Linked DNA regions of Homo sapiens: region 2 is linked to region 1. Evidence: fine-mapped expression QTL. A gene starts in region 1. The other region holds a variant in brackets. All regions are shown on one strand. Distances are from middle to middle. Region 1 holds the start of GJB2 (gap junction protein beta 2). Region 2 has its middle 9.3 kb from the start of GJA3.

What was found.
Region 2: its variant is fine-mapped to the expression of GJB2 in monocytes after LPS (Fairfax 2014, PIP 0.93).

The regions. Positions count from the first base shown.
Region 1 is chr13:20,189,610-20,197,609 of GRCh38, forward strand. GJB2 (gap junction protein beta 2) reads right to left here and starts at 3,329. Exons shown (of 2, transcript NM_004004.6): 1 at 3,174-3,329.
Region 2 is chr13:20,166,313-20,174,312 of GRCh38, forward strand. No RefSeq gene overlaps it. Among named protein-coding and RNA genes, the nearest start is that of GJA3, 9.3 kb to the left of the region's middle. The variant G/A (reference allele first, on the strand shown) is at 4,001.

The DNA.
Region 1 (8,000 bases):
AAGACGAATGCACACAACACAGGAATCACTAGCTAGGACAGAACAGGGAGACTTCTCTGAGTCTGGGTAAGCAAGCATGCTTAAATCTCTTCCTGAGCAAACACCAACTCTTACACAACCTCACCAAAACAGGTGAAGACAGAACCAACTTAGTTTGTCATAGGATTAAATGTATAGTTCCCAAACCCTCTTGAACGTGTTTTTAGGTGTTCTCTGATAAAAAGTAGCTTGTTCACCTGAGTAATTCACCCAATCTTTAAACACATCATAAAAATTTGCTGTGCTGGGGAGTGTCATAAAGTCCTCGTTAGCTGAAAGGCACTCAGGGGTTCTGACCGTACCCCTGCATCCTCTGCAGAGCTTCCTTGGGTCTTCCTGACTCTGCAGAAGTTACTCAGCGTTCAACAGCTGCATCCATTTGCAGTCTCAAGTTTTGGCTGTACCACTGGGGCCGATACTAGCTTGGGCCAACCTTGCTCAAAGGCTGAGAGGCCAAGTACAGGAGAACCGTGAGGATAAGATGTCTAGTCTCTCTGCTGAGCCACTTTCCTTAATGTCTTGAATGAATTTTCACAGACGTGGCATGTAGCAGTGAAACTGTTGTTACCAGTGGTTAAGTTTACATTTGAGGCACCCCGAGTTAAAATTTTACAAAGGACCTTGCTTCCTCCTACGTGAAAGGAAGAGGTTAGGAATGCCCTCTTCATGGAGAAAAGCCACTGTGAGCACAGACTTTCGTGTAGGCTTTGTGGATGGCTTGGTGGCCTCACTGTCAGGCTGGCACTGATGGCTCAGTTAGCATATCTGTTTTGATAAGTGCTGCAACAGTGCATTATAATTGTGGGCTGTGGTTTTAATTTCAAAGTGTTTCTTAAAAGACACATTATTTTAAAATGACAGAAAATTCAACTCCCTCGGTTACTGGCCCAGCTAAGCGACGTCACTGCATTGCAGTTCAGCGCTGAAGCTTGGGAGAGTCCCACACTCCTTACTGCAAGCGGATGTGGAGAGGCCAGTGGATAATCTCCTGTGAGCCCATGGCCTTCTTTTCATCCCAGGATGTGAATTGTCTTCACTGATTCATAGTTACACCCTGCCTGCCACAACCAACGCTCTCCTAAACAAGATTCCACCCTCTCCACAATCCGGATGAATCATCTCTTTTCCACCCTTCAGAGCTGGTAGTGAATCCTCCTTCTTCTTTTTCTTAAAAGCATCCTCCTCTCCTCATTTTAGGCAAGTTGCATCCCGTTTTCTGATGGACTCCAGAAGCAGGCTCGTAGTGAATGTCTTTCATGACCCACAGTCGCTGCCACGGGGCACCAAGGTCAGGCAGAAACCATCCAGTGCCACCTTGGTCAGAGGCTAACAGGAGAGAGGTGGCCACGAAAGTTACATCAGATTGACATAGGCCTGTGAAACATTTAGCTTCACTGAGCTTGGGAAAGACAACATCATTGGAAAAAACAATATTTTAGCCCAGGTTCAGCACTGACCCATTGATAATCCAGACTGGGAGGCCCTTAGGTGAGCTGGTTGTCCTGCTACAGCACCCACAGCTCAGGCCAGTCCCGTCCCAACAGCAGAACCACCGAGGACAGCAACATTCCGATTTTAACAAAAGCATCTTATGGAATTAGACATTCTTCATTGGCCCTCACTGAGTGGAAAACAGGATACTCCCCGAAGTAAACTCTCTCCTGGTTTACAACAATACACCTGGCCAAGAATATGGGGCTGCAGGAGGAGGGGTTTATCCTTTGCCCTCTTCCACCTGCCAAACCCAGGTCATACACCCTTCTACAGACCTGTCCAGTTACCATCAGCTGAGAAAAATACAGTTCCGAGAAACCCTATATTGTTATTTTATAAAGCTTGAGTTGAAGCTACCTGTTTTAAAGATCCTTTTTCAGGAAGAGGAGTAAATTAAGATTTACTCCCCAATGGGCTAGGGGGTCATGGGTTAAGAGGGGCTCAGAAGCAGGACGAAGTTGTTTTCAATATTCAAGTCAGAGGAGGAGCTGCCCTCCTGGCCTCCCGACCCTGGGCGGTTACATGCAGCTTCCTACCGGGCCCACGCCATCCTGCACCGCCTGGAGGGCTGCCAGAGGCCAGCGGAGGAGTTGGTTCAGTTCCTTAGGGAAGACACTAGGTGAATCACCAGGATCCAGAAAAGGCAAAAGGGACTCTTCACCCCTTAAATTTCTCCACCCTTAGGTGATGGGTGGTCGACCTTGCCTGGCTGTCCCCAGAGGGTTCCTCCACCCTTCTCACCAGTGTCTGAAATTGTGACCGACTGTGCACAGCAGTTTCGAAAGGGACTCTAAGGTCACATGGGGACACGGCCGTACCACGCTTCTCAAGGCAGTCCCAGGTGCATGGCCACGGAACCCAGCTCTCAGCAGCTGTTAGTTAGGTGAGCGCTGTTCGGGCTGCCTTCCTCCTCCAGTGGGGCAGGATCGAGGCACTGATGGAACCGTCCTGAGGACGCGGGTCTCAGCCGCACACCACCTCTTCGCGAACAAGGGTCCTAAAAATTTTCCTTCTAGGCGGGGAGCACAGCCCGGAAACAGACCCTCGTGAAGTGTTTAGGAAAAAGGGAAGCCACTGAAATCTTGGCCCCGGGGTAGGCCGGGATCGGCTGGCTCCGCGTTAGTTCTAGGCAAACTCCGCCCAAATCTCTGCCCGGGGATTTTTCTGCAGAAGCCGCTCCAAGAGGTAAAGGTCAGTTCCTGCAGCGAAGGCTTCCTGCTTCACCGGCGAAACGGAGCTTTGCTTCGAAGCTAAGCTTTCGGTGAATTTAAAACGTTTGGTGGCAGTGGGTCAAGTAGCCAGGCGGCTGCGCTAGAGTACCCCGAAGGGACATCGGCGACACCACAAACCTCGCGCTGGCGGCTCGCCCGCGCCTTTTTCCCCTCCCGCGCGCGCCCGGCCCCACTCGCACCCCGGGCGGTGCCATCGCGTCCACTTCCCCGGCCGCCCCATTCCAGCTCCGGAGCTCGGCCGCAGAAACGCCCGCTCCAGAAGGCGGCCCCCGCCCCCCGGCCCAAGGACGTGTGTTGGTCCAGCCCCCCGGTTCCCCGAGACCCACGCGGCCGGGCAACCGCTCTGGGTCTCGCGGTCCCTCCCCGCGCCAGGTTCCTGGCCGGGCAGTCCGGGGCCGGCGGGCTCACCTGCGTCGGGAGGAAGCGCGGCGGGGCCGGGGCGGGGGTCTCGGCGTTGGGGTCTCTGCGCTGGGGCTCCTGCGCTCCTAGGCGGGTCCTGGGCCGGGCGCCGCCGAGGGGCTCCGAGTCGGGGAGAGGAGCGCGCGGGCGCTGCGGGGCCGCAACACCTGTCTCCCGCCGTGGCGCCTTTTAACCGCACCCCACACCCCGCCTCTTCCCTCGGAGACTGGGAAAGTTACGGAGGGGGCGGCGCCGCGGGCGGAGCGCGCCCGGCCTCTGGGTCCTCAGAGCTTCCCGGGTCCGCGAACCCCCGACCGCCCCCGAAAGCCCCGAACCCCCCAAGTCCCCTTCGAGGTCCCGATCTCCTAGTTCCTTTGAGCCCCCATGAGTTCCCCAAGTGCCCCCAGCGCCCTGAGTCTCCCCCGGTTACCCCGAGCGCCGCCTCCCCCAGCCCCTTGGCGGCCCGGGTGAAGCGGGGGCGGCTGAGAGTCGGGACCCCCCAGGAAGCGGCGCCCCAGACCCCGGCTCCGGCGCTGTGCCGTGGGCGGGGTTCAGGGATGGCTGTGGTCGTTGTCCTCTGTACTCCGCATAGTGCGAGAGGACTTGGCATTTATGAGCGCTTCTTTAATTTTTTATTGTTAGAGAAACAGGCATTCCTCCAAGGACTGAAGATCTGTTCGAGTCGCGGAGGCTGCGCGGGCCCGCGAGGCTCTCGCAGGGGGACCTAGGCTGGGTGGCGGGGCAGTGCCCTCTGGAATGGGGGTTAACGGTGGCCGAGGAGGGGGCGCCGCTGGTGCCGGCGAAGTCCCCGCTTCTTTCTCCCCTCAAAATCTCACCAATCCGAACGAACGCCTTCTCGAATTTCCGATTTTATTCAATTACTTTCAACAATGTGCCAAGGACTAAGGTTGGGGGCGGTGGGAGAGACAAGCCTCGTTTTTGCCATGGCCGGCAGGGGGGTCCCGCCATCTGCGGAGGGTGCCCCCCGCGGCCCCCGGCCCAGCCAACTTCCTCCTCTTTTCGCAACTGGGGAACTGCAAGGAGGTGACTCCTTTCGGGGTGAGGAGGCCCAGACTTTTCAGAAAGGAAAGAGGGCAGGTAAAACCTGCCAAGCCCCTTCCTGCTCGATGCACACAGCACGAAAGGGGGAAACTGATAGGATTCTGCGGAAGACCGCTGGGGGGCTGGCTCTGCACTGCACACCTGCTGGGGGCTTTCTGGATACCGTGAAACTTTGTCTCAGATTATGAGGTCTCAGTATTTGCATTTGGTTGGGGATTTTGATGTCTTGCGATACAAATGACAGAAGACAGATTTGCACAGCGCAAGCGGATGAGGGACTAAGATGTGCAGAGCAGGCTGGGTGGGGACTCCCGGGGAGGTCTCCCCCAACCCCCGCCCCACCTCGGGCACCCACTTCGCGATTTTTGCAGAGGGGAGCCAGGTCAGAGGTGCAGCCTGGTCCCCTCGCGCTCACGTTTTTACCCAGGTCAGTTCGAAGTTAAGTGGAAATGATGATTAATCCTGACAAGTCAGATCTGGCCTCAGAATGGATTTCCCGTGATTGCCACCATTATTAGCATTGACTTTTCCTTGAAAAATTGGCGCCCCGTGGCCATGGGCCGACCTAGGCAGTTTCTGCAGGGACGAGCGTGAGTTTTGTACCGCGGTTACCACCTACTTTCCAGCTCCAGGTCTTAGTCTAAGAGGGAGTGTCTGCTCATGAAGAGGCAAAGCCCCAGGAGCTGCGAAAAGCCTTGCATGGCCCATCTGAGAGATGTGCTGAGTCGGCTTGTTAAAAATGACAGGCAAAGCCTGTGGGGTGGGGCAGCTTTCTTGGCCTGAGCGCATCTTGGTTGAGCCAGAGGTGACTTGGGGTGGGGAGTGGGGCGCCGGTTGGTGGGTTCTCCCTTTAATTTCTCAAAGGCTGTGGTGTTTATGAGTCTGTTGGAATCCTGGTTGGGTTGGAATGAAGGAAGGTTCTAGAACCATTGTGGGAAGCTCGCTAGTAAAGATGGTTTGGAGATCGGAAGTTGACTGACTTTCCCCCATTGAAAAATGTCACCTGAGATTTTAGTGCCTGTATCACGATTATAGGCTCAACTTTCTTTTCCTTGTTTTCTTTGATTTAGTTCTCCTTATGTGCAAAATTACTGTGTGATGTTGGCTAGTCGTATTATCACAGCCACTCCGTGTTTTCAGGATTTGTAGCTGGAAGTCCTATAGCACTTAAGTCTTCACTTACAGATCAGCGCTTGCTTTTATTCTGTTTTGTGTGATTTCTGCTGTTTTCCTGTGAGTTGGTGTTTTCTTCCCAAGTAGGCTCAGGACTCCTCTAGGGCAGGACATTATATGCATGTACATAGTGTCCTCCAGTGTAGGGGAGGAGAAGGAGGAGAGGTGAGGTGGGAAAAGGGTGAGGGAAGGCTTGGATATTTGAAGTTATTTACAAATGAGCTTAGACGTAAATCCAGTTAACAGATGACACCACAAATTAATGATTAAAGAAATCCTGAAATTATTTTGTAAATTACACACTTATATTGCTGCATTTTTTTTCTGTTGAAAGCATTACTTTTAACAGAAATGGAAACATTGGAAATAAACCATGTTTTTCTCACCTTTTATGTCTTCATCTCTTAATGTACCAGTCCCTAGAGAAGCTGAAGCCCAATCCTGTGTTCCTCCACCCCAGCCACCCAGCCCCATGGTGAGGACACAGGGAGCTTAGGATAGTACTGCTGCGTGCAGCATACACCTTTGTCTCATTGACGTGCAGAGACTGACCAGATAGAGAAGGTTTTTTGATGGAAAACTCACTGTGGTGTCTGCCTGGTTGATCTTGAATGATGGCAAGTGGGCACTTTTCAGGTAACTATTGATGATTAACTGACAAAGATCTGTGAAGGCTACACTTTGTCACTTCAGAGTGCCAGAGATACCCATCAGTAATATTTTTACATATATGCTTAGTACCATGCAGGTAAATCCCAGGTGATTGTCATCGAGCTGAACTTTTACTCAGATGTTTAAAGTGATGCACTTGTAAGGTTATAAGGTGAAAATGCTAATGTTTAAAGCTATTTGGCATTTTAATTTGACAGTTGTTTTATAAATGAACCAAAAAGAAAGAAGTTGCTGTTTTGCAATAAATCAGTGTGACACAAATCATATTTCTTAATATTTCAAGTGACTGCTTGCCAACTGCCTGATGGAATGGCACCGTGAATTCCCGCCGGGAAGAATGCTCTAAATATACATTAAACATGTCTTGGTTGAATTTCCGACTCACGAATCACACGTAGGTGATGGCAGAAAATGATGCAAGACGCGAAGAGACTGTCCTACCACTTGGCAGTTTTAGGGCAAGTTGGATTCATTGAGTGTCTTTTCAAGAGCCATTAGTTAATGGACCACATTCCCTTTTCTTGCCTTGCTGTTGAAATATTAATAATAATAATAACTGGCAAAAAAAGAGAAACTTTAGCTCTCCTCAAAATAGCAGTTGGAAACTGACAAGCTCCTGGCATCTCTGGTTAATTAATAATAACTTACATATGATACTGTAATTTTAATGCAGGAGTGGCTCCACTGTGCTCCTTTGTGGGTAATTATTACAGGGAACACTATTTCACTACAATTTCTCTCTGTGTAATTGAACCACACCCTGACTTATGTTTTCTGAAAATTGTTAAAGTCAAATCTTTTGGGGAAAATCTGTTGTTCCATTCAAAGAGTTAAAAAAAAATTCCAGCCTTCAATAATTTAATTGTTCTTTGCTTCCAAATTAAAGACATCTCATAAAATTCTAATTGCCAAGTTGTGACTGAAATTATTATATAGGCTTTTAAATTTTCCTCATTCTATTCTTATTTTCACACATACAATCTTTTGGGGGAAATTCAAACTGCTAGATGTGTCTCCGTTTCAAGGCAATGGTAGAATTAGTTGATCTCCTTGGTTTTGCTGAATGGACACGTGCTCTTACTCACAAATATATCCATGCAGTTCTTTTATGATTATCTAGGCAGACTGTGGATAAATTACAAAGACATTTCCAATTGTATTTGTGTCAAAAAGCACATTTTGGTCAGAAATGAATCCAGAGCTATAACTCCTTAAATAGGTAAATTTTTTTTACTTCTATTGAATATAAAAAGTAAATTCTGTAAATTATGGTGGCTTGCCAACATGGAAATTCTGGATCATTCACAAGGAAGCCAAAAAGAGCTCTACATTCTAGCTCTGGCTACAAAAATATTGTGCTATCTATCATCTTGAAGGGCTTCTGGAACAAGTTAGAATAGAGTCAACACTCATGAACTGCTGTAGCAAAAAAAACTATAGATGTAGGATTGACAAGGGCAATAGAGCGATGACTCCCTGGCTGTGTTGTATTTGATGGACGGCAGTAGCTTTTCACAAAATGCTCATTTGGATGTTTCAAATTAAAACGTTTCACTTTCTAGAACCAATTACGTGGTCAGTTTAGCTCCTGAGGTCCCAGTCAGAGGGGTATTCTGTAGCTTGCAAAGCCTCTCTTTGGGGACTGGACATGGAGTCTGTGGTCTTAGAATTCAGAACCGGGAGAATGTGTTAGCCACTCATCTAAGCTATTCCTTAAACGCTTTCAGAGCCATCTCCACTGTGGGGAAAGAAGTTCTTTGTGTTCTCTGACTTAGTCTCATTCTAAAAAAAAAAAAAAAAAAAAAAAAAAAGCAATTGCAATACCCAGAGCGCACAGTAGATGGCACTGAGACTTGTCGGAAAGCTGGACGCACTCAAGAGGTGGCAGAAAAATCTATAGGTAAGCTTTTCTTCTAGTCTGGTGTTGCT
Region 2 (8,000 bases), 23 kb before region 1:
AAAAACAAAAACCAAAAAAGCACTTGGGCAGCAGCCGAATTAGAAAATTAGATCTCCTCATGTGGAAGAGGGTCAGTGTGATTCCTAAAGCAGGTAGGAGAACCACTGATAAACCATAGACAAGCAAGAGTGTCAGAGTCCTTGTCTGCTCAGTTATTGTCAGTTATCATCAGGTAGAACAAGCCTTGTCCTGGTATTTCACGTACTTCAGAAATAAAGACAGCCTTGGCTGAGAACAGACTTGTTTCTGATAATAATAATATAACCCTTCACCACTGCTTGGTGTTTTAACGTTTTCAAAGTGCTTGATCTTATTTGAGCTTCAAAACAAACGTGTGAGGAAGGAAGGGCAGGGATCATTTCCCATTTCACAGAGGAATACGTTGAGAGATGGGGAGGTGAAATGGTTTGCAGACATGTGTCACTGCTGGTAAATAGCTTATGGGAGTATGGGCTCTGACCTTGCAGGTATCAACCTAGTTCTTTCTGTGTAGCACTGTGAGACTTCTGAGGTTGACTAGGAAAAGAACTTAGTCATCCATAAATCAGTAAAAGTCGTGGTAACATCTAGAAAGGGCTAACATCAGTGATGTGAAGTCGTCAGCCTGTGGTTCTGAGGGAATGGGCCACGGTCCTGGAGGATCCCCATGCCTGCGCCCAGCCCGACTGGGCAAGATGATCCACTCCTCACCACCCCTAGGTACAAGAAGAGCTCCTCGCCTCCTGGTGAGCCTCACAGGGTCTGAGAATTTGCCTTGCCTGAGGATCTCAAATGACAGAATTTAAATTTGGTGGTGTTCACAAGCTGAAGGAGTTTATTTTCATGAAAATTGGGAGGGAAAAGGTGGTGCTTTATCATTTCTTCTGGGGAAGTAATCTTCCGGGGAAGTGTTAACACTATTACCCTCATTTTAAAAATTAAGAAAACAGGTAGAGTGTGGTGGTGCATGCCTGTAATCCCAGCGCTTCGAGAGGTGGAGGCAGGAGGATTGCTTGAGGCCAGGAGTTTGAGACCAGCCTGGACAACAAAGCAAGACCCTGTCTCTACAAAAAATAAAAAAAGTTAGCTGAAGGCAGTAACATGTGCCATAGCCCCAGCTGCTGGGGAGGCTGAGGTGGGAGGATTGCTTTGAGCCTAGGATTTTGAGGCTGCAGTGACCTATGATCCTGCCACTGCACTCCAGCCTAGGTGACAGAGTGAGACCCTGTCTTACAAAAAGAAAATAAACAAAAATTAAAGAAACCAAGTAGAGAAAGGATATGTGACTTATTCAAGAGCATGGTCTACTTTGGTGGAAGGTGGTCAATGTGTCTCAGGCTGAAGTTGTAAAGTGAGAAGAACAGGAGGGCGACCTGAACGATTAAGGCAAAACTTCGAAATGTGCCCCAGCAGAGATTTATTTTTCAGGGGGTGTTTTGCATTCCAGCCCCTCTGCCTTCCTGGCGTTTAGTGCGATTTGTTTAGCCATGTGCTCCCTGGTGTGTGTTTTTGAATGTGTGTGAGATGGGTTGTCTCTCGGGACCTGGCAGGTGCGGCCACCAGGTCAGGGCTGCCCCCCAACCCTGTGCCTCCTTCCTCCTAGACTCTGGCCCCCTCAGTGCTGAGGGTGATACAGAGCACTTTTCAAGCTGGATTTGGAATGTGGCCTCTCCCCTCCAAACTCCTGGAGATCATGCAAAGGCCTTTGGAGCCAGCCAGTCACCTGGAAGGTGACATTCCCACCAGCTGAGGCCTCACCTTCAGCGGGGGCTGGGCAGCTTTGGAGCCTGGGGCCAGCCAAGCTCACTCTGCCCATATCCCTGCCACGTGTGGCCCAGCGGATGATCACCTGTCTTCATCTGCGTACTGGGCCACATCCCTCCTGCCGTCCCCCACTTCCCTGATGACACCTACAGCAAGCCCCTACCCAAGTGTTCTGTGATCCCCTGTAAATGTGGCCTCCCTAGCTACTTGCTTTTATGAAACCAACAATCCTGGGGACACAGTTTTCGGCTGTCTCAAGACGGGGCAACCACTCTTTTCCCCAGGCCTGTGGGTCCCAGGCCTGGAGCTAGGGTTGGCATTCTTGCCTGAATTCTCCACTCTATCCCAACCCCTGAGGCCGCCTGAGGAGGCTCAGACTGTGTCAGGCTAGGAGGACAGTCAAACCACAAAAACATGCCTTTTAAGAAGTATAAGCACAAATCCCTCTTTGATGTTATATAAAAGCTCAGTGTCACTGATTAGGAATCCAGCAGCCCAGGTCCCTGTGTGGACATGACGGTGTTGAGGGAAGCGGATTGACCGCTGGCGGTTGTGTCCACAGCGAGGAGGTGGCTCTCCACTGTTGCTGTGCCAGCCACGTTTCCAGGAGTGTGTTTAGTTTTGGACAGAGTCCAGTGAAAAATCCAATCTATTTAAACAATGGAACATCACCCATTTAAAAGGTGACTGGCCCATTTAAAAGGATACAGAGAGGACTGAAAAACCACAAACTATAAAGAGGGGTTGAAGGGAGTGGGAATATTTCCCTAAGAGAAAGGACTCAGAGAAGACCCCTGTCCATTTAATGAGTACTGGTTACATGCCAGACACTGGGCCAAGACACTTACATATATTAGCTCACTTAATCCTCACAGCAGCCCAGTGAGGGTCATATGAAGAAACGGAGGCTCAGGAAGGTTAATTAACTTGCCGAAGGCCACACAGCTAGAATGGGGCAGGGTCAGGATGTTAATATGAATCTGCGGCCCCAAGCCCTTGCTCTTAACCAGCTGTGTGTGTGTGTGTGTAAACACAGTCATATGTGTATGTATGTGTGTGTATATATTTGTGTGTGTCAAAAAGTTTAGGCTGGCTTTGTATGTCCACCAAAAGGACAACCATGACCTGTGGGCAGAAGTTCCTGGAGAACAGCTTTTGCTTAAACCCATTACATATACCCAACTAGAGTTGTCAAGAAGTGGCTTCAGGATGTGGTGGTTTCCAAAGGTAGTGGGTGGGATGTCTGTGGAGTGTGTCTCTGAGAAGGTGGCCAGGAAATGCATCTATGAGGTGATGGGAAGTAACTTCCTGGAAGGGAAGAAGAGTTCAGATTAAATTAAGGCTGGATGTTAGAAGTGTTAGATAAAACCCTTTGGAGGACCTGGTGGATGCTGGAAATTTGTTAAGCGAGCCATCCATGTAAAGTGCAGCAGGGAAGGGTGCGTCTTGGAGTCAGCTGGTGGGCGACACTGTGAGGCGACTAGCCCTGCGAACTCTTGGGAGGCTGGGACTGAAGAAGACTGAGGAGGAACAGATGTGCCCTGGGCTCCCTTCTCCAGCTCCTTAAAATACCTGTGTCCTACAGGGAGGACAGACGGAGAGATGGTGCCACAGAACCCAGGAACTGAGCCTGGGAGGCTTTGCTGCTTTTGGTGTTGGTTGAACAGGATTTGTTCATGGATTACTTTTTTTTTTTTTTTCCACGCAGGCTGGAGTGCAATGGTGCCAACACAGCTCACTGCAGTCTCAACCTCCGAGGCTCAAGTGATCCTCCTGCCCCAGCCTCTCAAGTAGCTGTGACCACAGGCGTGCACCACCACACCTGGCTAATTGTTAAATTTTTCATAGAAATGGGCATGTTGGCCAGGCTGGTCTTGAATTCTGGCCTCAAGTGATCCTCCTGCCTTGGCCTCCCAAAGTGCTGGGATTACAGGCGTGAGGCACCATGCCTAGCCATGGATTACCTTTTTGATTCCTCCTTTGCTCTTTTCTTTCTTGGCTTCTACTGGCTACATTTTCTTCTCACTTGTCTTTCCTATCCTTTCCTTTTAATTTCACTTTTGCCTAATGCAGTCATAAAGACATTTCTGTCAATGATGAACTGCATATCCAACGGTGGTACCATAAGATTATAATGCCATATTTTTACCATACCTTTGGTATGTTTAGATATGCAAATTCTTACCATTATGTTACAGTTGCCTTCAGTAATCAGTACAGTCACATGCTGTACAGGTTTGTGGCCTCGGAGCGATA[G/A]GCTACACCACACAGCTTAGGTGTGCAGTAGGCTATTCCATTGGTTTGTGTGGGTACACCCTATGATGTTCCCACAATAACAAAATTGGCTAATGACACAATTCTCAGAACGTACCTCTGTCATTAATCGAGTGACTGGGTATCATTTCTTCTTTCCCTCCCCTCAGTCCCCATCGCTGATGGCTCTTCTCCATCAGTAACCAGCCCCCACCACCACAGTGTCCTTTTTACTCTTCCTTCCTCCCCACCCTTACCCCTTGTGATGGGAGGAATGAGCAGAGATGGTGCAGGACCAGCCAGTTCCTGCCAGCAGACTCCCTGCCACCAGCAGCCGTTGCTAGATAAGTAGAATACACCTATTTCTTCAGGACAATTGAGAGAAAGTCTGAGTTTCCATCACTGGTCTGCCCTTATTAGCTCTCTGCCCTGGGGTAAGTGGCTTGCCCACACTGCCCCCGTTTCATGAGCTTATGTACATGGAGATTACGTAGGATTGTTACGAAGATGAATCAACATGACCCAGTGTATGAAGTAGCCTAAACCAGTGCTGGTGCATAGTTGGTGCTCAAAAAATGGCACCCGTTATTATTACTTAGAAACTTGTATAGCAGTTTGCCATTGCTGTGACATTTATATTGTAATTTACACAGGTTTTGATCCTCAAGAGATTAGGGAAAAAATCTTTCACTACTAATGTCATTATTTCCCCTTCTTTGCAAAAGCTACTTACTACGAATAGAAACATTTACATAACGAGTGAATTTCTCAAATGGTGCAAGAATCAACCGCAAAATAGGCCTCCTCTTTTGAGTTTGGGAGAGAATAAACAAACAGAAATGAAACAACCTGGTTCCTATGAAGCCTCTTCTTGCTTCTTTTTGCCTCCCTGCGGGCCCCTTTGTCAGCACAGGGCAGGTGCTGAAGAACTTGTGCTCATCTGGCCCAAGCGCCTCCTCCATGTTTTCATCCTTGACAAGCCCAGACCAGGAACTCAGTGTCCCCTCACAAGAGGACAAATTTAATTTCCTGCTTATCCAAGATTTGTTTTATTTGATATGTAGGGACAATGTGTTTATAAATGGTTAGCAGCTATTAAGAGTGTAGAAATGTGTCATTTTCTTAACAGATAGGATCACCAACCCTCTTGAAAAAAAGTTGACATCACTTTCTAATATGGCCCCTGTGTAATGTCCCCAAGGCACTGTGTGATGCCACAAAAGCAAAATAAAATATTTGAAGTGTGTAGATTTCAGTTTACAAAGGCCAGGCCTATTGTTTGCCAAGGAAAAGAAAGCAGGAACCACTGGGTTCTCCGACAGTACTTACTTGGCTTTCTTCCTCTAAAAGAATGAGGCATTATTAATCCTTTTATTTCTACCAGAGAGCACAGAGCAGCTGAGTGATAGATGTTATCTAGCTTAAATATGCACTGGGTAAGCATCTGAGTGCAGGTAGCACTGTTCTAGGAATTATGGGGCTCCTGGGAAAGCGTAATGTGTTTAGTAGCTTATAATCCATCAATATGAGTTGATGTTGATAAGTTCATTAATATGATTGATGAACTTATAATTCATCAACCCATCAAATGGCTGACAAGCACATGAACTATGCCAAAGGCGCTGGGGTGTGATGGTGAGCTGAGTTGGGGGTCTATTCTCTCTCAACTTACAATCAACAAGATGAGCATTAAACAGGTAAATGCACAAGAAAACATGTACTGTGTTTCACTGCATCTAAAGTACGGTTGATCATAAGACATATCACCATGTATGTACCACTGAAGTAAAAGCCTGACTGTCATTGTTGGATGTCGCCAATTGTAAAGCACGGCTCTCTATTTCACAGGTGTTAGAATGGGAAAGAATTGTGTGTCTTAGAATCTGTGTGTGTAAGAATTAACTTATAAGTAAATTAATTACTAATCACGGTGAGTTCTTTATAGAAAAGATGTTACAAGAAAGCCCAACAGAGAGCCCTGCTTTAGGATGAGTGACATTTCAGCTGAGGCTTGAAGGGTAAGGACAGGGGAGAAGAGTTGGTGGGATGCTGTCTCCAATGGGTGGTGCAGGAGATAGGTGAACAGCGGCGCAGGGGAGGGAGATCAATATGGTGGGGATAGTCAGGGAAATATTGGAGGTGGGAATTGAGCTGCATTTTGAATGATTTGAGGTGGAAAAGGAAGGCCCAAACAAGGGACATAACACTAGCTAAGGCCAAAAGCAAAAGATAATGGGTGAAAAATCCATTTTATAATTCAAGTGGAATCCCAAGAGACTCCAAATAGCCAAAACAGTCTTGAAAAGGAGGAACAAAATTAAAGACTCACTCTTCCTGATTTCAAAACATACTACAAAGTGATAGTAATCAACACAGTTTAGTACTGGCATAAAGACAGACATATAGACCAATGGAATACAACACAGAGGCCAGAAATAAACACTTACATGTATGGTCATCTTCCACAAGGGTGCCAAGACCATTCAATGAGGAAAGGACAGTTTTTCAGCATATAGTGGGGGAAGCTGGATATCCACATGCAAAACAATCAAGTTGGACCCTAATCTTCCACCATATACAAAAATAAACTCAAAATGAGTAAAAAACCTCAATGTTAGACCCAAAATAATTCAACTTGTGGAAGAAAACAAAGGGCAAAACTTCACAAACTTGGATTTGGCAAATGATTTCCTGGTTATGGCACCAAAGCCACAGGCAATAAAAGAAAAAATAGACAAATGGATTTTATGAAAATCAAAAACTTTTATGCTTCAAAGGACACTAAAGAGAGTGAGAAAGCAATCCACAGAATGGGAGAAAATATTTGCAAATCACATATCTGATAAGGAATTAATATCTGGAATATATAGCGAACTGCTAAAACTGAACAATAACAGTATCAACAGAAAACAAGCTGATTCAAAAGTGGGCAAAAGACTTCAGTAGACATTTCTCCAAAGATAGACAAATGACTCATAGGCACATGAAGAAATGCCCAATATCACTAATCCTTTGGGAAATGCAAATCAAAACCGCTATGACAGCCCACCTTACACCCATCAAGATGGCTATTATCAAATAAACCAAAAATAACAAGTGCTGATGAGGATGTAGAGAAACTGGAGGCTTTGTGTACTGTTAGTGGAAATGTAAAATGGTATAGTTGCAGTGGAGTACTGTATGGTCCTAGCACTTTCTGGGAAGATGAGTTAATTCTCTCTTCATTTCAGGGCCCATGTGCGTGGGTGGTGGGCTGGGAAACTTCTGTTGCTTCTGGGCTTCCTCCCCCATGGCTGCCGCGAGTCTCAACACTCACTTGCACCCTGGCTCCCGCCTGGCATCCTCAGCCTGCCCTGCTGCCTGCTCAGCGAATTCTACTCGTCCTCACCCAGTGTCCCTCAAGGCTTCCTTCAAATGTCCTCTCCACCAAGGAGCTTTCCCCGCCACCTGAGGCAGAGGAAACCACTCCTTTCTTGATTCTGCAGATGCAGATTCAACAGACACCTGGCACTGATGGGCACCGAGATGTCCTGTGTGTTCATGGAGTTTATGTTGGGGTTTGGTTGGGGGCACCCCCGAGCTCCCCTCCACAGTTCAGAATGAAACAAGAAATAAGACAGGACAGGCAGATAAAAATGTCAGCTTCAAAAGCCAGGATAAAGTGACTTGATACCCCTTTCTAAACTAGACAGAATCAACTACCTGCTCACAGCTGCTGGCCTCTTTCTTGGTGGCACAACCTGCCCCAGGCAGCTTCGGCTGCAGCCAAGGGTGAACCAGGACACCCCACCACCCCCAGGCCTTCAGGCAGTGCCACACTGGAGAGGAGGGCAGAGGGCATTGGCCCTCAAAGGGCCAATTCCATCCCCCAGACTCATGGATGAATTATGTCTCTACTCCCCTAGAGAGGAGGAAACGATGGAGTGAATGAGAGAGAGAAAGAGAGGGCACACTGAGGTGGAATTCGACCAGGGGGCATCCTCATAGAAATATGAGAACAGGG